Homo sapiens: one gene and its partners. The protein of the gene in region 4 interacts with the protein of the main gene of each other region in a pairwise test. Each region holds a gene or a part of one and is shown on either strand. Other genes may lie near its edges.

Evidence for each region.
Region 1: the proteins of PLN (region 4) and CLEC2D interact in binary tests that used the Homo sapiens proteins (3 or more experiments, as listed by UniProt).
Region 2: the proteins of PLN (region 4) and SLC14A2 interact in binary tests that used the Homo sapiens proteins (3 or more experiments, as listed by UniProt).
Region 3: the proteins of PLN (region 4) and TMEM45B interact in binary tests that used the Homo sapiens proteins (3 or more experiments, as listed by UniProt).

What each region holds. Positions count from the first base shown.
Region 1 is NC_000012.12:9,686,702-9,693,738, reverse strand, and holds part of CLEC2D (C-type lectin domain family 2 member D), read right to left. Parts: intron 5,838-7,037; coding exon 5,653-5,837; exon of another isoform or gene 5,578-5,652; intron 912-5,577; coding exon 808-911; intron 706-807; coding exon of another isoform or gene 624-705; intron 1-623. UniProt on the Homo sapiens protein: Receptor for KLRB1 that protects target cells against natural killer cell-mediated lysis. Inhibits osteoclast formation. Inhibits bone resorption. Modulates the release of interferon-gamma. Binds high molecular weight sulfated glycosaminoglycans.
Region 2 is NC_000018.10:45,611,617-45,618,483, reverse strand, and holds the start of SLC14A2 (urea transporter 2), read right to left. Parts: upstream 3,009-6,867; 5' UTR 2,902-3,008; intron 1-2,901.
Region 3 is NC_000011.10:129,811,095-129,818,866, forward strand, and holds the start of TMEM45B (transmembrane protein 45B), read left to right. Parts: upstream 1-4,753; 5' UTR 4,754-4,804; exon of another isoform or gene 4,805-5,197; intron 5,198-7,772.
Region 4 is NC_000006.12:118,558,279-118,562,236, reverse strand, and holds the end of PLN (phospholamban), read right to left. Parts: intron 3,413-3,958; 5' UTR 3,316-3,412; coding exon 3,157-3,315; 3' UTR 521-3,156; downstream 1-520. UniProt on the Homo sapiens protein: Reversibly inhibits the activity of ATP2A2/SERCA2 in cardiac sarcoplasmic reticulum by decreasing the apparent affinity of the ATPase for Ca(2+).

The DNA of each region.
Region 1 (7,037 bases), on a different chromosome or scaffold from region 4:
GTTAATTCTAGATATTTATGAAGCAGTCACAATGTGCAAGGCAGTGTAGATACAACAATGTATAAATGTACATGTTCTCTGATTTCTAAAACTTACCATCCCATCCAAGGTCAAAAGCTAATGAGAAAAAACTCATTTCAAACCTGCCAATGTCCAGTCTGGGGCTCTTTTTATTAAATAAAGTTATATTTCCAATATTGATGAATGTATTACAATAAAGTAGCTTTTCAAAACTGTCTCATCTCTCAGACAAACATTGAGTGAAATTGTGTGAATCCAATTTTTCCAGCATTATCTCAAATCTTTTTAGTAATCTGAAGATCCTATAAATATACAATTGAGATTAAATTTTCTAGTGCCAAACTTTACCCATTTTAAAATTTTAAAACTATTGTCTTATTTTAAATAATAGGTATAATTGCTGTCACTCATAATCTTTCCCTGATACATCAAAACCTCTGTTCCTCACATCAACCCTGTGAAATCAGGAGGACAAGTGCAATTTAATTTTGTTGTGGAGGTAAGGAACAGACTTAAAGATATTGTATGGTTTGCTTAAAATGAAAGTGTTTGAAAATGACATAGATAAGCCTGGAGCCAAGTTCACAGTCAGTCTACCTCACCATGACAGGTCTTGGATTCATTCGAGGAACTTGTGAAACCTTTGCAACATACAAGTTGGCACCATCTTCTTTCATGACTAACCTTAAAATGAGAATTTTTTAAAGCATGTAACTAGAGAACACTTCAGATTTAATGCAAAGTAAATTCAAATACAAATATTACTGCCAGATTTTTAGAACTTACTGTCTTGTCCATTCAGTACCATTTATCCATTTCCATGGTTGGCCTTGTTCTCTGCTCAGCCCAATCCAGTGATCAGATGGGCCTTTATATCTCAACAGGAAATTCTTTCAGAAAACACAGAGATGATATTCATTAATCTAACATAACCCATCCTCTCCCAGAAATGTTGCTGCTATGCTATATTCTTAACTACTCATAATTTTCTTCCTTTTGATTTTGTATTGTTTAGTAATACATACAGAATAGGTGTGCTATATTATCATACATATCAAAAGAAGATAATTTAAAACTGAGAGAAATTGTTGATAATTTGGTTACTTTTGTTTCTGTATTGTACTCCTTTGTATGACTCTTCTCCAATTTATCTATTATACTATCGGTTGACACCAGGGTTTTATCAAGTTTGGAATGTATGCTACTATGACATTCTTGGCACCTGTCCTAGAATAGAATTTTTAGGCCCCAGGATATGCTTTTTGTCAACTTTAAGAAATGACACCACCAGGCCAAGCACCTGTAATCCCAGTACTTTGGGAGGCCGAGGCAGGCGGATCACCTGAGGCCAAGAGTTTGAGACTAGGCTTGGCCAACATGATGAAGCCCCCTCTCTATTAAAAAAAATACAAAAATTAGCTGGGCGTGATGGCATGCACCTGTAATCCCAGCTATTTGGGAGGCTGAGGCATGAGAATCATTTGAACCTGGGAGACAAAAGTTGTAGTGAGCCAAGATCACGCCACTGCACTCCAGCCTGGGCAATAGAGTGAGATTCTGTCTCAAAAAGAAACGAACGAACGAACGAACGAAAGAAAGAGAAAGAAAGAAAGAAAGAAAGAGAAAGAAAAGACACCAAACTAATGTAAGTGTACCAAATTATCCTCACAACAGCAGCAGCATAGGCTGGTTTCCTTTGCTGTGTTTCCTTGTCAATGTGTACTGTCCTTTTTATGATTACAAGTTCTGAATTTTAACGCAATTAAATATATAAACAATTTTCTTTATTATTAGTAAATTTAGGGACTTATTAGGTAAATCTTTTACTCTTTCAAATCATAAAGATGACTTCTATTTTTGTTTTACTTTTTTTAGTTCCTTACAGTGTACAGTTAGGCTATGGATTTGAGATCTTTCTTCTTTTTTAGTTAACTGCTCACAGCTATAAATTTCCCTCTTAGAACTATGTTCAGTGTATACCATAAACGTGCTATTTGTATTTTTACTTCATTTGTCTCAAGGTATTTTCTAATGTCCCTTGTGATTTCTTCTTTGACCAATGGCTGTTGAAGAGCGGGTTTTTAAATTTCTACATATGCGTGACTTTTCTGGTTTTTCTAGTTATTGATTTCTAGCTTCATTCCATTGTAATTGCAAAAGATACTTTTTATGACTTCAAATTTTCACACTTACTAACACTTGTTTTGTGGCCTAACATATGGTTTAAGAATGTTCCATGTGCATTTGAGAAGAATTAATATTCTGCTCTTGTTGGGTAGATTCTTCTGTATATGCCTGTTAGGGATAATTGGTTTATAGTGTTGTTCAAATTTTCTATTTCCTTATTGATCTTATGTCTAGTTGTTTAATCTCATGTTGAAAGTGGAATATTTCATTCTCTAACTTTTCATAGAACTGTTCTTTTCTCCCTTAAATTATAGCAATTATTGCTTCATATATTTTGAGGCTGTATTATTAAGTACATATATTTTATAACATAATTATTTGGCTATGTCAAAATTTTTGTCAATGCATAATGCCCTTCTTTTTCTCTTGTAAATTTTACTTTAGTTTATTTTGTTTGACAAAAATATAGCCACTCGGCACTATCTTGGTTACTACTGTTTGTATGGAATATCTTTTTCAGTCCTTTTACTTTCAACTTCTTTGTGTCCTTATATCTAAGGCAAGTCTCTTATAGACAGCATGTAGATGAGTCTTGTTTTTCTTTTTAATTTATTTTAGTTTTTAGCCAACTTGTCAGTCTCAGCCCTTTAATAGGATGGCTTCATCCTTTTCTATTTAATGTGATTACTAAAACAAGATTTACTTTTGCCATTTAATCATTTGTTTTCTCTATATCTTATATGTCTTTGTTTCTCAAGTTGTCTGTTACTGACTTTTTTTGTATTTAATTGGTTTTTTATAGTGTATTGTTTTTCTTTTTTCCTTTTCTGCATAATTTTGGTAATTTTATTAGTGGTTACCTTGAGAATTATAATTAGCATCTTAAACTTGTAACAATATAATTTCATAATATCAACATAGCTTCAATAACTATGCAAACATTTTGATCCTATATGTCTTCATCCCTGCTTCATAAGACTGTCACAGATTGCATCTTTATACATTATATGACCACTATCATATTTATAATTTTTATTCATTTGCCTATGAAGTTATAGATAAATATAAATATAGAAAGCTATAAATAGGAGAAGTTATAAACTATATGACACATGTAGTAATTCTGGGTTTTATATTTACCTCTATTGTTACTTTTATGAATATTCTTTATTTTGGAGGCTCTGAATTGCTGTCTAGTGTACTTTCAGTTCAGCCTAAAAGGTTTCCTTTAGCATTTTCTGTAGCACATGTCTACTGGTAATAAAATCCCTTAATTATTGGTTATCTGAAAATGTGTTACTTTTTCCTTCATTCTTGAAGGACAACTTTGCTATACATAGAATTCATGGTTGGCAGTTTTATTTTTTCTTTCAGACATTTAAATATGCCATTCCACTACCTTCTGATCTCCATGGTTTCTCAGAGAAAATCAGCTATTAATTTTATTCAGGGTCTTATGTAAATGATGAGTTGCTTCATTCTGGCTGCTTTCAAAATTCTCTCTGTGGATTTTGTCAACTTGACTATATTTTGTCTCAATGTAGATCTCTTTAAGTTTACCCTTTTGGAGTTCATTGAGCCTCTTGGATGTATATATTTATGTATTTCCTCAGATTTTGGAAAGTTTTGTTCATTATTTCTTTAAGTGTATTTCTCTGCTTCTCTTTCTCTTCTCTTTCCTGGATTTCTACAGTACATATGTTAGTATGTTTGCTGATGTCCTACAGGTTCCTTAGAATTTATTTATCTTCATTCTTTTTCTTTGTTTTTCTTAGTCTGGATTGTTTCAATTATCTTATTTTCAAGTTTTCTGATCTCTTACTTCTCAAATCTGCTGTTGAACTTCTTCATTGAGTTTTTAAAATTATTTTTAAATTTCAGTCATTGTACTTTTCAGCTCTGGAATTTTTGCTTGGTTCTTTTTTACAATTTCTACCTTTATATTGATATTCTAATTTTGTTCATTTATTATGTTTTCGGTTTCCTTTAGCTTTTTGTCTAGTTTCCTTTAACTCATTGGTTATACTTAAGACAGCTGATTTAACATTTTTGACTCATATTTTTAATATCTGAGCCTCTTCAGGGATAGTTTCTGTCAGATTACTTTTTCTTCCTGTGAATGAACCATACTTTTCTTTGCATGTTTTGTAATTTTTTTTTGAGAACTGGACATTATGAATACTATGTTGTGGTAACTCTGGTAACTTAATTATTTTGCTCTTCAGGGATTGTCAAATCTTGGTTGTTGTGGCTCAGAGTCATTTGGTCATGATTTTTTCCCAACTATTTTTATTCTCTGTTGTGCATGGTCATTGAAATCTCTGTTCTGTTATCTCTGCTGTCAGCCAGTTATCTAATAAAAATTGTCTTAAATGACTGCTTCCTAAAGGGAGGAAAAACACATACTATTTATTTAAATCCTTGGGAAGCCACTTCAGCTGATGAGGACTGATGCAATGATAGCCCACTTCTGTGTCTGCCCCTCAGCATTCAAAGGCAGAAATCAGCAATAACCCTGACATTTGGACAAAAAGGTGCTTATTGTTCACCCTGGCTGCAGGAATTCATTACAAGAACATGGGCAGCAGTTCCCATGGATCCCTGCAATAATGGGGTATGGAAAATAGTTATTATTGAGTGGAAAGGCTGAAATTCACCAACATTAACCAAAATTTATCATCCTCTTTATCAAACTCTTCCCTTGATGCTTCCAGTGTTTAACTAGACTCGAGAATTCCAAAATAGTTACTTCAGACAGTTTTTGACAGTTCAATAGTTTTCTCAGTGGAGGAACAGATTTCTGTAGCTTTTTAGTCTACCAACCTCTATGACATCATTCTTGCTTGACTTATTGTTTTTATTTTATTATTTTTTTGAGATAGAGTCTCACTCTGTTAGGCTGGAGTACAGTAGCATGATTTCAGCTAACTGTAGGCCTCCACCTCCCAGGTTCAAGCAATTCTGCTGCCTCAGCCTCCTGAGTAGCTGGAACTACAGGCGTATGCCACCATGCCCAGCTAATTTTTGTATTTTTTAGTTGAGATGGGGTTTCACCATGTTGGCCAGGCTGATCTCAAACTCCTGACCTCAAGTGATACACCCGCCTTGGCCTCCCAAAGTGCTGGGATTACAGGCATGTGCCACTGCTCTTGGCCTTGTTTGATTTATTTTGAAACAATGTTGCTAACTTCATACAAACTTAAAACTGGGTTTCTACCAATACTTTTCTAATCCTTATTTGCACAATTCTGGCTCACAAGTCAAAGAAGGCTCTGGCTTGCTTGCCCTCTGGGCCTGTTCCTGCCACGAATATTAAGGTAATTTTAGATGGTTCACTGTAAAATATAATACATGCTAGGTTACTCTTTCGTTATGCAAAAAAAAAAAAAAAAAAAAAAAATCAATGTAAAAGCAGATGTCTAAACCTACCTCTTAGATAATTTCACAGGAAAACATATCCTTGTAGGGCTGAATCTTTGATTCTGGCCAGAACTATTTTCTTACCAGTTCCTGGAAGCTTTCAACCTGAGCAAGATCAGCATCTTGTGAGTCACAAAACCTCTGACTTGATGTCCAGTTCTTGGTGTCATCAGAAAAATAGAAACACTTTCTTTGAAAACCAATCCAGCTTTCTGGGCATGCAGCTTGAAGACATACTGATGGCTCTTGATGGCAGTTAGCTCTTATTGCTGAAAATAAAATAAAAATAAATAAAATAAAAATTTCTTACTTTTATATTGTATTGTATAAATTACCAAGTGCTAATATACTTTCTGACACTCCTGTTAAGTATTAAATGTATTATTTTCATTTTTCAAGTGAGAAATATGATGCTAAATATAATTGCATACATTACACAGCAAATGGCAAAACTGAGATTCAAACTCATGCCTTCAGCAGGGGGTGAGCTGAAAAAGGAGTTATTAGTAACTTAAGCTTGCTCTGGGCCATGTATCTATTTGGCTCTCAACAGTGTTACCCTTTCTTAAAATATTAGATACATTAATGATAGCATTTGATCAGCTTTGGAGAACAGATAGTTCTCCAAGTGCTCTAGATTAGGGGTCCCCAACCCCTAGGCCATGGATCAGTACTGGTCCATGGATGAGTCAGGAAGCAGGCTGCACAGCAGGAGGTAAGCAGCGAATGAGTAAGTGAAGCTTCATCTGTATTTACAGCCACTCCCCATCACTCACATTACCTCATGAGCTCCACCTCCTGTCAGATCAGCAGTGGCATTAGATTCTCATAGGAGGGCAAACCCTATTGGGAACTTCTCATGTGAGGAATCTAGGTTGTGGGCTCCTTGTGAGAATCTAATACCTGATGAACTGTCACTGTCTCCCATCACTCACAGATGGTACCATCTACTTTCAGAAAAACTAGCTCAGGGTTCCCACTGATTCTACATTATGGTGAGTTGTATAATTATTTTATTATATATTATTACACAATGTAATAATAATGGAAATAAAGGGCACAATAAAAGTAATGCACTTAAATTATCCCCAAACCATTCCTTGACCCCAGTCCATGAAAACGTTGTCTTTCACAAAACTGGTCCCTCATGCCAACAAGGTTGGCGATTGCTGCTCCAGATGACTTGGTAAAATGAAGGGCAGGATAGAGATGCCTTATGTGAATAAGGTTTCTTGATGTGAAAAAGCCTTGTATATGTCTAAATACTATCATAAATATGAAATAAGTTGTTGTACAGTGAACTTCCTTCCACTAAGGAGATTTAGTGAGGTTTTCTACACTTTGAAGGCAGCAATACTTCACTGGACAGGCTTTTCTGACCCACTTCTTATATAATCAGGAGAAATGCTCTCTTCATGTGGGATCGAGATGAATGAATGTCTCTCCAGATAGTTGTCACTGAGCCCCTA
Region 2 (6,867 bases), on a different chromosome or scaffold from region 4:
TTGGCCAGGCTGGTCCTGAACTCCTAACCTCAGGTAATCCACTGGCCTGGGCCTCCCAAAGTGCTGGGATTACAGACGTGAGCCATTGTGCCTGGCCTTACTTCATCTTCTAACCAACTCAGTTATTGAGACCACAGCAGCTCTGGAGAAGTAAAAGTGATTAGCAGGTTCTCCAGAATATTAGTTGGATTGATATATTTTGCCTAAGACCTTGCAATTGATGCAAGGAGAGTTTCCATAAATTTCTACAACCTTAGAACCAAGAGGGATGTCCTCTCTGAAATGATGAAGGAATCCATTCTTTAACACCTCTGGATACCTAGCTTCTCCTGGCTGGGGTCCCTTTCCCATGAGGCAGGTTGGTCTTGTTGAGAACAGCCCTGCTTACTAGAAACCCTTGTATCTGTGGAGCTGACATCAAGTCCCTGGGACTTTTTCTCTTTGCTGTTTCCAGTTCTGTCCATTATACCTGCACAGGATACAGGGACTCCTTTTCCCACCTAAGAGCACTTCAGAGGTTGATCCTAAGCCTTCATTTTTCTAGGGCAGTCTGCTTGATTGTCCTTCACTCTGGCTCACCAAACACAACCCCAGACTCTCTGCCATCTTGCCACCAGGATCTCAGTGACAGCATCATTCTGAAAGGACCTTGCTGAGTGAGTCAGGCTGGGTCCCTGGGAGCACTGGCTTCACTCATCCCTGAGTTGGTAGACTCTGAAGGTGAAAAATCAGGTGTGTGGGGCTAGGTGGATGTTTGGTCAGGCTGCCAGAATGGGGACAGATGAGGCCCCTGGACTGGTGGATCACACATCAGGGAGATCAGGGAGGGGAGGAATCCAGGAGACACCTGGGCACTAAGAAGACAAGGCAGGTAAACAGTCCAGTAGCTGGGCTGAGAGGTGCCTTACTCAGGGCTGGGTTGTATAAGAGCCTGGCTGAGTGCCGGCTTTTATTAGGGGTGGCTCAGAGTTTTCTTGGCAGCTCCAAGTTAGTAAGTCTGATCTGGGCTGAGAGGAGACTGACTCACTGGGGCCAGCGGGTCAGGCTGGGTGGGGCAGGAGTCAGAGGCAGCACCACCTCCTCTGGGTCCTCTGAGGACTGGCTGGGGTTAGAGATGGCTGGTGGCCAGTGGGCCAGGGGCTTTATCTTTCTGGTTTCTGCTGCAGGGCCAGGGCTGGGGTTCTGCAGCTGAGAATCTAACCAGAGCCTGGCAGGGGAATTCTGGCCTCCAGCAGAAAAGCTCTGAGGAGCCTGCAGTGGCTGTGAGATGAGGTGGGGGAGAGAGCAGACCACTTGACCTCTTTTGATGCTCCTCCTTAGCTTGTGTTTGGAAGAATCTCATAGGAGATCGTCACACCCTTCTTATGTGACACTTTTTTCTTTGTTTTAGATGGAGTCTCCACTGTTGCCCAGGCTAGAGTGCAGTGGCGCAATCTCGGCTCCCTGCAACCTCCACCTCCCGGGTTCAAGCAATTCTCCTGCCTCAGCCTCCTTAGTAGCTGGGACTACCGGCGCACACCACCATGCCCAGCCAATTTTTTGTATTTTAGTAGAGACGGGGTTTCATCATGTTGCCCAGACTGGTCTCAGACTCCTGAGCTCAGGCAATCCGCCCACCTTGGTCTTTCAAAGTGCTAGGATTACAGGTGTGAGCCACTGCACCCGGTCCTTATGTGACACTTCTAAAGTGGGGTGACCCTTCAATGTTCCACATATTGAGCCCTCTCATCCCATGAATAAATGGCAATTTATTTATTGCCTCTTGCATTCCATCAGTTGCAATTATTCAGCCATCGAGTTCTCCTTCAGAGCCCTCAGTCTGGATCAGCCCATTATCTCCCTTTAAGCCAGGCCCTCCCCAACGCAGGTCACCTTCTAGCTGATTTCCCTCACTTCAGTCTCCCCAGTTTTTCTCCACCTTGCCACTGGTGATGGGTAAATTATCTTAAAACATGACTTGGTCGTGCCACTGCTCAAAAACCTTCTGAGGTGCTCCATGTCTGAGTGCTTCGCTCCTGAAACTGGGCATGAAACTCTGAGCCAGAGTAGTCAATGCCCAGGGCACTGAGAAGCACAGTTTTCTGGAATGCTGATTGAGCTTGATATGAACTAATATAGAATAATAGTTGTATATTTAAGCAAACATGGTTTATAAAATAGTCAAATGCAACTCTTTATATTATTAAAATAAAATATAAAGGGAAGAAATGTAGAGTCTGCAGGTGGCTGCTTCAGGCTGTGCCCACCTATTACGTAGGGGTAATGTGTCAATTCTCCCATCAGTTGAGGCTACTTAGGGGGAGAAGTTAAAAAGCTCTGAAGATAGCAACTGTTCTCAATCTCCCTCGGTTCTACCCAGGGGTGCTCCACTTGTGCCCAAGACAATTTTCAGCTTCTCTGCAGTGTGTGCCACTGTTCTGGGCAGGTGGCCTCCTGAGGTCCCACAGCTACCTCCAATTCAGTTCCACATGCACGAATATTGATCTCCTTTACTCACACACATCCTGCTCACACACCCACCCCTAACATGGCCATGGTGCCTTCCTGGCCTCTTAGGAGCATGGTGACCTCTGCTCTGGCTTGTGTGGTGGACTATTTCACAATGTAGTAGTCTCTCTCTCTCCCTCTCTCTCTCTCTCTCTCTCTCACACACACACACACACACATACACCCCTACACATACACACATGCACACATACTTATATACACAAGCTGCCCCGAGGTGGCTCTAGGTAGTTAATTTTAGTGTTATTAGACAGTGGTGGCACAGTGGAGACAGAATACCTGGATTCAAATCCTGGCTCCCCCACTGCAATAGTCCATTCTCATACTGCTATAAAGAACTACCTGAGAGTGGGTGATTTATTAGAAAAAAAAAAAAAAGAAATTTAATTGACTCACACTTCCACATTGCTGGGGAGGCCTCAGGAAACTTACAGTCATGGTGGAAGGCGAAGGGGAAGCAAACTTGGACCTTCTCAAATGGCGGCAGAAGAGAGAGATGGTGTGGAGCAGGAACTTGCCAAACACTTATAAAACCATCAGATCTTGTGAGAATTCACTCACTATCACGAGAACAGCATGGGGGAAACCGCTCCCATGATCCAGTCACCTTGCCCTGGGTCCTGCCCTCAACATATGGGGATTACTGGGATTACAATTTGAGATGATATTCAGGTGTGGACACAGAGCCAAACCATATCATTCTGCCCCTGGCCCCTCCCAGATATTATGTTCTTTATACATTTCAAAACAAAATTGTGCCTTAGCAACAGTCCCCCAAAGTCTTAACTTATTCCAGTATTAACTTGAAAGTCAAAGTCCAAAGTTTCATCTGAGGCAAGGCAAGTCCCTTCCACCTATGAGCCAGTAAAATCAAAAGCAAATGGCCGGGTGCGGCGGCCCACGCCTGTAATCCCAGCACTTTGAGAGGCCGAGTCGGGTGGATCACTTGACGTCAGAAGTTCGAGACCAGCCTGGCCAATGTGGTGAAACCCTGTCTCTACTAAAAATACAAAAATTAGCAGGGTGTGGTGGCACACACTTGTAGTCCTAGCTACTGGGAGGCTGAGACAGAAGAATCTCTTGAACCTGGGAGGTGGAGGTTGCAGTGAGCCAAGATAGTGCCAATGTACTCCAGCCTGGGTGACAGAGCAAACTGTGTCTCAAAAAAAAAAAAAAAAAAAAAAGCAAGTTAGTTACTTCCAAGATACAGTGGGGGTGCAGGAGGCATTGGATAAATGCTCCCATTTCAAATGGGAGAAATTGGCCAAAACAAAGGGCTACAGGCCCCACGCAAGTCCAAAATCCAGTGGTGCAGTCATTAAATCTTAAATCTCAAAAATAATCTCCTTTGACTCCATGTCTCATATCCAGGTCATGCTGATGCAAGAGGTGGGCTCCCACAGACTCAGGCAGCTCTGCTTCTGTGGCTTTGCAGGGTATAGCTCTCCTCCTGCTGCTTTCGCAGGCTGGTGTTGAGTGTCTGTGGCTCTTCCAGGTGCAGAGTGCAAGCTGACAGTGGATTTACCATTCTGGGGTCTGGAGTACGGTGGTCCTCTTCTCACAGCTCCACTAGGCAGTCCTCCAGTGGGGACTCTGTGTGGGGGCTCCAACTTCACATTTCCCTTCTGCACTGCCCTAGCAGAGGTTCTCTATGAGGTCTCTACCCCTGCAGCAAACTTTTGCCTGGACATCCTGGCGTTTCATACATCCTCTGAAATCTAAGTGGAGGTTCCCAAACCTCAATTCTTGACTTCTGTGCACCTGCAGGCTCAACACCACATGGAAGCCGCCATGGGTTGAGGCTTGCACCCTCTGAAGCAATGGCCTGAACTGTACACTGGCCCCTTTTAGCCATGGCTGGGATGCAGGGTACCAAGTCCCGAGGCTGCATAGGGCAGTAGTGGGGCCCTGGACCAGCCCATTGTTTTTCCTCCTAGGCCTCTGGGCCCAGGATGGTAGGGTTGCTGCAAAGTTCTCTGACATGCCCTGGAGTAATCTTCCCCATTGTCTTGGCGATTAACATTTGGCTTCTGGTTAGACAAATTTCTGCAGCCAGCTTGAATTTCTCCCCAGAAAATGAGTTTTTCTTTCCATCACATCGTCAGGCTGCAAATTTTCCCAACTTTTATGCTCTACTTCTCTTTTAAACATAAGTTCCAATTTCAAACAATCTCTCTGTAAATGCATAAAATTGAATCCTTTTAAGAGCACCGAGGTCACCTCTTGAATGCTTTGCTGCTTAGAAATTTCTTCTGCCAGATATCCTAAATCGTCTCTCTCAAGTTCAAAGTTCCACAGATCTCTAGGGAGGTGGCAAAATGCCACCAGTCTCTTTGCTAAAGCATAGCAAGAGTGACCTTTACTCCAGTTCCCAACAAGTTCCTCATCTCCATTTGAGACCACCTCTGCCTGGACTTCACTGTTCATATCACTATCAGCATTTTGGTCAAAATCATTCAGCAAGTCTTTAGGAAGTTCCAAACTTTCCCACATCTTTCTATCTATCTTCCTCCGAGCTCTCCAAACTGTTCCAACCTCTGCCTGTTACCCAGTTCCCTACTTGCTTCCACATTTTCAAGTATCTTTATAGCACTGTCCCACTATCTTGGTACCAATTTACTGTATTAGTCTGTTTTCATACTGTTATAAAAACTGCTGGCCAGGCGCAGTGGCTCACACCTGTAATCCCAGCACTTTGGGAGGCTGAGGCGGGCGGATCACGAGGTCAGGAGATCAAGACCACGGTGAAACCCCATCTCTACTAAAAATACAAAAAATTAGCTGGGCATGGTGGCGGGCGCCTGTAGTCCCAGCTACTCGGGAGGCTGAGGCAGGAGAATTGTGTGGACCTGGGAGGCGGAGCTTGCAGTGAGCCGAGATTGCGCTACTGCACTCCAGCCTGGGCGACAGAGTGAGACTGTCTCAAAAAACAACAACAAAAAAAAACTGCCAAAGACTGGGTAATTTATAAAGGAAAGAGGTTTAATTGACTCACATTTCCACAATGCTGGGGAGACCTGAGGAAACTTACAGTCATGGCAGAAGAAGGGGAAGCAAACTTGGACCTTGTCACATAGCAGCAGGAGAGAGAGAGTGTGTGAGAAGGAGGAACTTGCCAAACACTTATAAAACTATCAGACCTTGTGAAAACTCACTATCATGAGAACAGCATAGGGAAGCTGCCCCCATGATCCAGTCACCTCCTACTGGGTCCGACTTTGACACATGGGGAATATGAGGATTAAAATTCCAAACGATATTTGGGTGGGGACACAGAGCCAAACCCTACCACCCACCTACTTAGCTGTGCATCCTTGGGGAAGCCCCACAACCTCTCTGTGTCTTGGTTTTCTCATCCCATCTGTGAGGTGAGGACAATAATAGTGCCTACCTCATAAGATTGTTTCAGAAGAAATAATGCATGCAAGTTGCTTAGTGCAGTGCCTAGCACATATTAAGTAGCTAATAAACATTAGCGATTTTAATTGTTCATGCTTATGCTGTGAGTGATGTATTCATGTGGGTGTGTCTGAGCATCTTCAGGGCCATTGTCCAAGAACCCCAATCAAAAGTGAATTCAGGCAGTAGAGAGATGGGTAAGGAGTTTAAATGCTATTCTGCATGTTCTAAGAAGTTAACCTTGCCATGTTGGAATGTCATGGGCACATAATATTCTGACCAGCTGATTTGCTTATCTTGCCAGCCCGCAGAGTCTGAGCCATCCTTGCTCTTTCCCACTGAGCTCTGGGCAGTTCTCTCTGTTGACCTTGGGCTGGAAGATCTCTGAGTAAACACCTTAAATGGAGGCTGGGAGCAGCAGCAACTGCTTGAGAGCTCTTTATCTTTCCTTTTCCAGGCCTCAGCTATCTGTCATTGCTGTTTATGTATATGTCTCATCTCTAGGAGACAGCCAGGAGCCCCTTATCGGCAATTTCCTTGTTTTCTTGAAGTATAGCATCTTGTACACAATAGGTGCTCAATAAATATTTGATGAATGAGTGAAGTATTCACTGAAGATTGCAGACTATGAACTTTACAAATTCTGTACTGTTTGAAGTCACCATGCACATGGTATTTTATATGTTACAAAGCACTTTCCTTCCTCAAACTGAATTTATTTCCTCAATCAATCTCATGATGGGGTGTAAGCTATAGATGGTGCTCTTCTTCTTGTTTTGCAGGGTCAGTGATGTGAGGGTACCTGCTTCATGGGCCACACAGTGAGTTGACACAGGAGCTAAGACTGTCTCAGCCTTCTTTGCTCAACAGCATTCCCAACCTCTTTGTGTTGGGCCCTGGACTCTTCCCTAAGGTTCTCTCCCTCATCCAATGACTGTGGGCATGTGAGTCCTTAATTCTTCT
Region 3 (7,772 bases), on a different chromosome or scaffold from region 4:
AAAGCAAAAACACAAATAGGGAAGGGGCACCCTATTCAACAAATGGTGCTGGGATAACTGTCTAGCCACATACAGAAGAATGAAACTGGATCCTCATCTCTTACCTTATACAGACATCAACTCAAGATGGATCAAACACTTAAATGTAAGACCTGAAACCATAAAAACTTTAGAAAATAACGCTGGAAAAACTCTTCTAGACATTGGCTTAGGCAAAGATTTTAAGACCAAAAACCCCAAAGCAAATCTAACAAAAACAAAAATAAATAGATATTACCTAATGAAAACACTTCGGCACAGCAAAATAATCAGCAGTGTAAACAGACACCTCACTGAATGGGAGAAAATATTCAACTATGCGTCCTACAAAGGACTAATATGCAGAATCTACAAGGAACTCAAATCAGTAAGAAAAAAAGAAATAATCCCATCAAAAAGTGGGCAAAGAACATGAATAGACAGTTCTCAAAAGAAGATACACAAATGACTAACACATGAAAAAGAATGCTCAACATCACTAATTATCAGGGAAATGCAGATTAAAACCACAATGAAATACCACCTTACTTCTGCAAGACTGGCCATAATTTACAAAGTCAAAAAATAGTAGATGTTTGCATAGATGTGATGAAAAGGGCACTTTTACACTGATGGTGGGAATATAAACTAGTACATCCACTGTGGAAAACTTTATGGAGATTCCTTAAAGAACTAAAAGTAAAACTACCATTTGATCCAGCAGTCCCACTATTGAGTATATATCCAGAAGAAAAGAAGTCATTATATGAAAAAGCCACTTGCATCTGCATGTTTATAGGAGCAAAATACACAATTGCAAAAATATGGAACCAGCCTAAATGCCCCTCGACTGACAAGTGGATAAAGAAAATGTGATATATTTACACCATGGAATACTACTCAGCCATAAAAAGGACTGAAGTAATGGCATTTGCAGCAATTTGTACGGGAGTTGGAGACCACTATTCCAAGTGAAGTAACTCAGGAATGGGAAACCAAATATCGTGTATGTTCTCACTTATAAGGGTTTGCTGAACTATGAGGATGCAAAGGCATAAGAATGATATAATGGGCCGGGTGCAGTGGCTCACAACTGTAATCCCAGCACTTTGGGAGGCCAAGGCAGGCGGATCATGAAGTCAGGAGATTGAGACCATCCTGGCTAACATGGTGAAACCCTGTCTCTACTAAAAATACAAAAAATTAGTCGTCGTGGCACGCGCCTGTAGTCCCAGCTACTCAGAGGTCTGAGGCAGGAGAATCGCTTGAACTTGGGAGGCAGAGGTTGCAGTGAGCTGAGATTGCGCCACTGCACTCTAGCCAGGGCGACAGAGCAAGACTGTCTCAAAAAAAAAAAAAAAATACATACATACATACATATATATATATATATATATATATATATATATATATAATGGACTTTGGGGACTCAAGGGAAAGTGGGAGGAGGGTGAGGGATAAAAGACTATACATTGGGTACAGTGTACACTGCTCAGGTGATGAGTACACAAAAATCTCAGAAATCACCACTAAATAACTTATCCATGTAACAAAAAAATGACCTGTTCCCCAAAAACTATTGCAATTTTTAAAAATGTAAACATTAGCCATGCGTGTTGATGCACACCTGTAGTCCCAGCTACTTAGGAAGCTGTGGCAAGAGTATCTCTTGAGCGTTGGAGGTCGAGGCTACAGTGAGCTATGATTGCACCACTGAACTTCATCCTGGGCAACAAAGTGAGCCCGTCTCAAACACACACACACACACACAACAAAAAATTGGTTTTGTCCTGGTACCTGGTTATTATAATTTGAAGCAGAAATTATTTTGTTTAGATTTTTTAATATTAAGAAGCATCTCCGTCGGGCGAGGTGGCTCACACCTCTAATCCCAGCACTTTAGGAGGCTGAGGTGGGCAGATCACCTGAGGTCGGGAGTTCAAGAACAGTCTGACAAACATGGAGAAACCCCGACTCTACTAAAAACACAAAATTAGCTGGGCATGGCGGCGCATGCCTGTGATCCCAGCTACTCAGGAGAGTGAGACACGAGAGTCACTTGAACCCAGGAGGCCAAGGTTGTGGTGAGCCGAGATCGCGCCATTGCACTCCAGCCTGGGCAACAAGAGCAAAACTGTCTCAAAAATAAAAAGTAAAAAAAAAAAAAGCATCTCTACTCACCATTAACTATACAATTAAGAGGTCACACCTTTGTTTCATCATCGTAGACAAGGTAAATATTACTAAAGAAAATGCCTGTCCATAAAAGGGATCTGGTGACAGAGGACAGCCTCTCCCAGAGTAACAGGCATCCAGGACTCCACTCTATCAACGATTTCTAAAACAATGGGTGTGAGCAAGGGCTAGGATGAGATGTGTGATTAAGTTCCTGAGCTGACGGCAAATTTAAAAGATGCCCTCTCAGCTCCTGGCTGCGGCCCATCCTCCCTGTAAGGTGCACGACTCCATGACGCTTTTCACTGACGGCACTACCTCTTGGCCATTACCACCTCCCACCAGATCCCATTCGCTCTGTTTTACCAGGGAAAGGTCTGCTCCAGTTAATGCCTTATCCTTCACAGTGATGTTCTTTGACTTTATAAAAACGGAGCCATTTGGTCAACAGGCTGCCCGTCGGATCCCGTGTCCTTCTGCACTGCTAATATCTAGCTGTGGCCCTGCTTTAAAACCCAAATGCAAACATCTCTTCCATGAAGCCCTTCCTGATTGCCAGTGCCCTCAACAGTGGAATAAGCTGCCAGGCATCTTAGAGATCTAGACCCGTGGTTCTCAACCCCCACTTCCCCAGGCCTCCTGAGAAGCTTTTAATAGGTGCATCAGCCCTGGATTCTTACCGGCAGGACTGAGAGGGAGCCTTAACGCTTGTGTTCTTCTAATAGTGTGCACAGGGTTGACGGGAAACACACACACACACAGTGCAGAACCATTCCACGAAGCTGTGTATCCGGAATTGGTTCCCTCTGAAGAGTTCCTGGTCCCGGTCCTGCCGCGGACCTTCACGGCATTATAGTTCTTAAACATGGTGTGTCCGGAGTTTGTTCCTTCAAATGTTCAGGTGTGTCCGAAGTTTTTTCTTTCTAGAGAGTTCGTGGTCTATGCACGACTTGATGAGTGAGGCCGCGGACCTTCGCAGGGAGTGTTACAGCTCTTAAAGGTGGCGCATCCGCGTTGTTCCTTCCTCCCAGCGGGTTCGTAGTTTCGCCGACCTCAGGAGTGAAGCCACAGACCTTCGCAGGGAGTGTTACACCTCTTAAAAGTGGTGCGTCTGGAGTTGTTTGCTCCTCCCTGTGGGTTCGTGGTGTCGCTGACTTCAGGAGTGAAGCCACAGACCTTCACAGTGAGTGTTATGGCTCTTAAAGGTGGCGGCTCCAGAGTTGTTTCTTGTGGTGGCTTCCTGGTCTCGCTGGTTTACAGGAGTGAACCTGCAGACCTTCACTGTGAGTGTTAAAGCTCATAAAGGTAGTGTGGACCTAAAAGGTGAGCAACAGCAAAATTTATTGCAAAGAGCGAAACAACAAAACCCCAACACCATCGAAGGGGACCCAAACGCAGCTGCCGCTGGCTCGGATGGCCAGCTTTTATTCCCTCATTGGCCCCGCCCACATCCTCCTGATTGGTCCTGCCCACATCCTCCTGATTGGTCCATTTTACAGAGCGCTGATTGGTCCATTTTACAGAGTGCTGATTGGTCCATTTTACAGAGTGCTGATTGGTCCGTTTTTACAGAGTGCTGATTGATGTGTTTACAAACCTTTAGCTAGACATAGAGCATTGATTGGTGCATTTACAATCCTTTGGCTAGAGAGAAAAGTTCTCCAAGTCCCCACCAATTAGCTGGACACAGAGCACTGATTGGTGCATTTTTACAGAGTGCTGATTGGTGTGTTTACAAACCTTTAGCTAGACACAGAGTGCAGATTGATGCTTTTACAATCCTTTAGCTAGACAGAAAAGTTCTCCAAGTCCCCATCCGACCCAGAAGCCCAGCGGGTTTCACCTCTCAGTAGCTTACAGAAGAGGACCCTGCTGCCACAGCACAATACCACAAAGAAAGTCATGCTCTCCTCAGCAGGTAGCCCCCTTCTCCGGGACAGGAACTTTGTTTCCTTCTTAGCTCTATCGCCAGCACCTAGAACAGTGCCCACCTGTCAGATCTGTTATCAGATGGGAACATGGCAGATTTGTTGAATGAATGAAGGAATGAATGAACTATGTGACACTCAAACTTAGCCACCAAACTTAAACTAAAAAAACTGGGTTGTGGTCCCTGATGGACCGTTGGCACCTTCTTCCTTTGCTGGACGGTGATCCGTGGCTGTTTCTGCGGTGTGTTCGCAGTGGTTGCCTGGCTTGGTAACAAACACTCTTCGGAGCCACAGCCTGTTCTCAGGGTCCTCGCCGCCTCCCAGGCCCTGCGATCTCTTTGCATCTCAGGAGGTCCAGGTTGGTTGCAGTCCTCTTGGGTGACTCAGGAACCAGCCTCTCCTGAAGCACACAGCTTAGGGAGTTCCTGAGGCCAGAGACATCTCCACGGGAAAGTCAAAGGCCTGGAGGAAGTGCGGACCTGACGACAGATGCCCCGCACGCTGGCCGGGACCGGGAAGGGCGGTCAAGGGTGGAAAGGGGCTGGCGGCTGCCAGGCCTGGCGGAGTGGAGCGGGGCGGGGCGCAGCGGGGCGGGGCGGGCCTGGAGCTGCACCTGCTTCTGGGCGGACGCACTTGGCGCGCGGCGCGGGCTGCAGACGGCTGCGAGGCGCTGGGCACAGGTCAGACGTCCGTACCCGCAGGGGGCTCGAACCTGGAGGAGGGCTCGAAGGGAGAGGGGGCCCCGCCAAGGAGCGGGGCTGTGATGGAGAGGAGGTTCCGACTCGCAGGGGACCTGCGGGGGAGGGGACGCGGACAGGGAGGGGCTCTGGGACAGGGGTGAAGGCTGCGCTAGGGGAGGACGGGAGGGGATGGAGGGCCCTGGTGTCGCGGAAGCCCAGCTGGGGCCCCCTCCGGGCTGCGGAACCGGTGCGCACACTACTCCCACCGCCCCCGAGTGCCTCTGTCCGGCTGGCCGCGGCCCTGGAACGAATATTGCTCAGTCCCCCGCGAGTCAGGTCTGCCGCGTTGCCCGGTGAGGGGAAGGTGTGAAGCCCCGGGCCTCCGTCTGCCCGGTGAGTCCGGGGACGCGCGCCCCCGGGGATGCCATCTGGCTCCTGGGCTGTGACCAGTCACAGCTCACATAGCTCTGGGCACTGGTACCGACTGCCTTTCCTTGTTAGCTGCGATACACAAATACACGAGCCAGATCCTTTCCTGAGGCCAGGAAGCCTGGAATCTAATAACACCGGGCGGTGGATAAAGTCCCCCGAGCCAGTGCTTAGCTTCCGTTAATGGAGCCATGGATGGAAGCGGATGTCAGGCGCAGTGGGGGAGAAATTTGCGGGGGTGGCCCTGTCTAGGGCCAGAGAAACAACCTCTGAAGCTTTGATCCAGCCCTAGAGGGAAGAAAGATGTGAGTTTCAGCCAGGGAAACGTAGCACTTTAAGAAATAGAAACCCTTTCAAAATTTGAGGGCAGGTAGCTCTCCTAAAAGTTGCAGAAATGGCCACTTCTTTTTTTTTTTTTTTTTTTTTTTGAGACGGAGTCTCGCTCTGTCGCCCAGGCTGGAGTGCAGTGGCGCAATCTCGGATCACTGCAAGCTCCACCTCCCGGGTTCACACCATTCTCCTGCCTCAGCCTCCCGAGTAGCTAGGACTACTGGCGCCCGCCACCACGCCCGGCTAATTTTTTGTATTTTTTTTTTTTTTGGTAGAGACGGGGTTTCACCGTGTTAGCCAGGATGGTCTCGATCTCCTGACCTCATGATCCACCCGCCTCAGCCTCCCAAAGTGCTGGGATTACAGGCGTGAACCACCGCGCCCAGCTAGAAATGGCCACTTCTTTCACGTTCTCTTCGACCGCTTTCTGCGGTGTCTGCCCTTTTCCTCCTCCTGCACCTTTTTGTCTCCTAGGGTCGCATAGCCTTCCAAACAGGCCTGCCTACAGCATTTTACCTGCAATTTTACACTCATTTTAATAGAAAGGATGGCTTATTGTTCATGAGAGACGTGTACTGTTTTTAACCAGATGTGTAATATCTTCAGTATAACCTGGATGTTGTGCAGTGGGAAGTTATGGAAAGAATCAGGACACGTGGTTAGGTAGGGGCCCAGGGGCGTCAGACTTAGCTCTTTGTGACAGTGAGCTTCTTGGTTTAATAAGGATATTGGCTCCCTCTGTTCCTGGGGTTTCTGGGAAAAGATATGGAACTGATATGAAGGTTTTATTGAATATGGCCCACTGATTTTACAAGTGGAGGTGACTGAGATAAGCAGAAGGTGAGGCATGACCTCTGGCTGTGCATTATTTGTTCTGATATTACAGGAGCCAAGCATTCCATTTCCTTCTTTTTAAAGAGCTTTGATTTCCTCTCACATCTTCATGAAGATGGAAACAGTGCCCCCACTTACTTATCCTCAGGCCACACCTGTTCCCATTTATTCCATGAGTTCCTCCCACACCCTTCTGGTTGATGTTGGTTGTGATGGTCGAGGTAATTGAATCTCACATTTGGCACCAGTTATTTCTGTTTCTCATCTCCCCCCTACCTGCAGTTAAACATCAGCTGCTATACTTAACTGTTCAAAGTACAGATGTTACCTGTGTTGGGTGTAATCAAAAGATTATCTCTTTTCCTCAAATGAAAAATGGGTGAGGACAGTTTCACCACACATAGAGTCACTCCCCTAGCCAAAGTCCTTGCTATTGCAAAACTTTTTACTGTAAGAGAATTAAAGTCACTAGTGTGTCATCAACTAATGGTACTTATAGACACATTCCATATTTGTTTCTATAGAAAGATCATAAGACAAACACTAGATTATTCCCAGTATGAGACCATACTGAATATGAACAATTAGAGGCCACAGGTGAGTGCTGTCCTCCTCACACTTTCTTTGAACTCTTAAGCTTCTACTCTTTTAACCAGCTACCCCTCTCCCCAAAACCTTCACTGAGGCTAGAAACAAACACAAATAGACTATTTGAATTTTAGCAAATTTTATCTCTCTTTTCTATTCTCTTGTGTAAAACTTAAATGGCCACAAGCTACACTACTGGAGGAAAAAGGAAAGCTAAAAGGTCTATCAGCCTTCTGTATGTGATGCAGAGTTCAACTGAATATAGCAAGGTACACACCCGCATTCTCCTTGCCAGGACTTAGATATCATAAGCCATTATCTTGCTGGTTGTTGAAATCATAATGGGGCTTTATAGAGCACAAGGCGATGTTTGTAAACAGCACTGTTCAGGTCAGATTAGAATCCGTATTTCAAAAATGAGGAGATGGAAACAGAGATATTGTGTATGTGGTCCAGGGTTAGCCAGTAATTAAATGGCAGAGCCAGAACTCAAACCAACATTCCTTCCAGAATACCACAGCTGCCTCTGGAGTGGTTTTTGTTGTTCTTGTTGAATTTTGTGATGGAAGATTGTGATTTGTTTTTCCCGAACACTTAATATGTTTTCTGACTTGAATTATCAGAATCTAAATTTAGAAACTCTCTCGTTTGGTATATTTCATGCCCATCTTTGTTCCATATAATTACAAAAATATCTTAGAGCTGAGTATAACCTTAAAGATTGTCAAGTCCAATCTTGTGGTTTTTCAAGGAAGAAAACCGGATTTAAGAAAAATAAAGCAAGTAC
Region 4 (3,958 bases):
TTATTTTTATTCTTATTTTTGTACCCTGTTCTGGCTTTAATTTTTTAACTGTTTGAGATAATTTATATATTCAAAGATGTGAACACTATGACACTCCCTATATTAGGATATGACACATTCATTAGGTAGTTAAAGAGGACTTTTATATACCTGTTTTAATGAATAAAATTAGTAATGTGTTTCACTTTTTTCATCTGTCAAGTTTTCTATGTAATATTAGCATAAAATTTCTGGACATTTTGAAGTGTGCTGTTACTTAGCAGAAGAGCAGATCTTTTCTGAAAATTTATTATAGTCCTACTTTGCCAGAAGTCTCAAAAATAATCAAAAGATAAATAATCGCTATGTAGTAGCAATTTGTTATCTTATATACGTCTGCCCTCTTGTGTGTCTGGACTTGGGCGTCTTGATTTTGTTTTATTTGGGGAAAGTCACCAAAAAAACCCCTATAAAATTAAAACTATAATTAGAGCGTTTTATCGTTAGTATCAATTGTAAGTGTATTATAGAGCAGCCCCACTGAGTTTTCAAGAACATTCATTTTAATATAGTGATTCTGATTTGCATTAAACAAATATATATTCTTAACCAATTAAAATATAAAAGGCAACATTAAGCATTTTAAAATTGTTTTTAGTGCCCTGTAAATTAAGATAAGAACTTATTCTATAGTAGAACATATTTGAGCATTTAGTATATTAAATTTTAAAAATAAATTGTTTTCTTATATCTTATTCTTTACACTTTATGATGAAGAATAATTATTTAAAGAGTTTATTCTACTTTATAATTTGAGTTATAGTATTCTGTAATCCTCACAGAATAAGATTTTAATTTCTATCAAAGAATGAAGAACAAAAAAATTAGTTATTTCTGTTTACTGAGAAAAATATTGTAACAAACAGTGTAATCAAAGGAATATGACTAATCAGTTCAAATTTTCCACTTGTTTTTAAGACTAGGGATACTTTCTGTATTGGTAATTTACTAAAACCAGTGAGGTGAGTGTATCACCTGTTGTTTATAAGCTTTCTACTTGTTTTTAGGAATTTCCAGCTTGTAGATGAGGCGTCACTTAAGAAATCTCTGCCCTTCTGTTCTTCAGATATCCCTGAACCAAACACTTTCCACTCCCCATCTCTAGTATCTCTCATGGGTTCAGAAAATTTAATAGTGTCTCCTTCACTATTGAGTTAGCAACACTTGTGTAAGAAACCAAGGTCAATATTGATGTTACATATTCTTTTAGTAACCATGTTTTAGAAGATATGGTTAATTACACATCCTCTACTCTTTTAATAATAGTTATATTAGTAACATGTCTTCAACTGAAATTAAAATTGTTGGATTATGCAGTATAGGTGTAAACTATTTTAGACTTAATTTTAAACTTTAGTCAACTTAAATTACCAAAGTTTGGTGAATATATTTTCCAGCACTCAATTTTACTTCAGTTGTTTTATGAGTTATTGGAAGATGTTCTGAAATGGTCAGAGGAGAAATTGAAAATTTATTCATCAAGAAAATAATTATAAATAGCATAGCTGGATCTATAATTTAGCTCAGTAGAGTGGACTGCAAAATAGATGCTTACCATTTGGTTGATAGAGGAAGAAAAATAGCTATATCCTATTACAGTTGACCCTTGAACAACAAGGGCTTGAATTGCAAGGGTCCACTTATACATGAATATTCTTTCCCCCACTCCCCACACCCCTAAGACAAGACTGCAAGACCAACGCCTTCTCTTCCTCCCCATCTTTCTCCTCCTCTGCCTACTCAATGTGAAGACAATGAGAATGAAGACTTTTATGTTGACCCACTTCCATTTAATGAATAGTAAATATATTTTCTCTTTCTTATGATTTTCTAAATAACATTTTCTCTAGCTTACTTTATTGTAGGAATATAGTGTATAATACATATAACACGCAAAATATGTGTTAATTTACTGTTTATGTTATCAGTAAGGTTTATGGTCAATAGTAGGCTATTAGGTAGTTAAGATTTTGCGGACCCACGAATTGTCAGCTCCCCTAACCCCCATGTTCAAGGGTCAGCTGTAGATGTAATAGATGGGCCAACAAGTTCATTTCAAAATATAATCTAATAATTAGTTAATATTTGGAGAGAGAATTCATATATTTTTAAAAAATACTTGAGATAATATATTTTTCTGTCACTGGAAATCTTTTATTTTCCTTGCCTGCATTGGATGTTAGGCTGGAATGGAAGACAACCTGCAAAATCATTCTGAAGTCTTAAGGTTTCATGATTCCAAAGATATAGTATGGTAAGCTAGGTAACTCTAGCTCAGATAATTCACTACAGTGCCTTAAATGAAGATTAGATTCTGTTGTTAGTATATTAGTGATATGACTAATCTCACTGTCACATATTAACCACCAGTTCTCATCTGTTGATCATATGTCTTAGAACAGATTTATGATTTACCTACATGTACTAGAATTCTGTGATTCTTTGAAAAAATTACTTAAAAGGAATTTTATTATGTAAGAGTATGGCCTTACTTTTCCATACTTGATTCTCATCAACTTTAAAAGATGTTAATGTGGCATAGAAAAAATACAATTTCTGTTTTAGAATGTAGATTCTGATAGTTACTACAAATAGTTCTTTATAATAAGATAACAGATGTGAGGAGTCAGTGGACTATTTTGAATAATGACACTTCATTTGTGTTATTACTTTGATACTTGGTGAAGACCTGAAAAATACTTAGTATTAAAGAAGCTTTTACATTGTAATATAAATTATATTCACCTCAAAAGAGTAAAAATAATGCTTTATATATGAAGTGAACTTGTTGGCAGTGCAGTTTTAAAACTAAACTCTTCATCTTCAGAAAAGATTTGGGATAGAAATTTGTGAGCCATGTTGAGGAAATCAACAGTTGCATTTTATACACTTATTTTGAAGTTAATTTTTGAAAATAAAGCCCTTTTCATGTTTACAAGATCCAACAGATGAATACATATGGTAACAATAAGTTTTAGTCTTAATCTTGACCTTTTCACAAAGAAACTCTTCTACTCAGGAAGTGGTCTGTTATACAATATTGTTTTCCTGTCTGCATGGGATGACAGATTTTAAGCTGATGTGGCAAGCTGCAGATCTAGAGGTTGTAGCAGAACTTCAGAGAAGCATCACGATGATACAGATCAGCAAGAGACATATTAAGATGAGACAGAAATTGATAAATAGATTCTGTAGCTTTTGACGTGCTTGTTGAGGCATTTCAATGGTTGAGGCTCTTCTTATAGCTGAGCGAGTGAGGTATTGGACTTTCTCCATGATACCAGCAGGACAGGAAGTCTGAAGTTTTAAGTGGTCGAGAGAAAGATAAAAAGCTGGCAGCCAAATATGAGATAACTGTCTTCTTTTAGGTAGCCTGGAATGTAAAAATAATAAATGGATTAGAATCATCTATGTAACCTATCCTCAGAACAAAAAATACAATTTTACACTAATTCATCTTCCTCAGCACTATTGTTATTTATAACATCATGTTTCTATAGTCTCTCTCCCTCTCTCTCTCTCTCTCTCTCTCTCTCTGTGTGTGTGTGTGTGTGTGTGTGTGTGTGTGTGTATGTGCACGTGTTTCTATGTGTCTGTCTCTCTTTCTCTCCTTTTTTGATGGGGCACACCATGACCGTCTCATTTGTGTTAGGAGTAGTAACTTTAGTCCTTGCCTTTTTCTCCCAAATTTACTACAAGTATTGGAGTAATCCTCAGTGTCTTCCATAAGTTCCTGGAAACCATGACTTTACGCAAAACAACATATAACAAAACCATTTTTACCCTAGGCTGATTGATGTAAACAAGAGTTAAGTTCCTATAGCATATTTCTGGTCACAAAAACATCACCAAACTTCTCAATAAAGACCCCAAACACTTCTAATATTAAACGTTGAGAGAAATATGAACTATGTATACA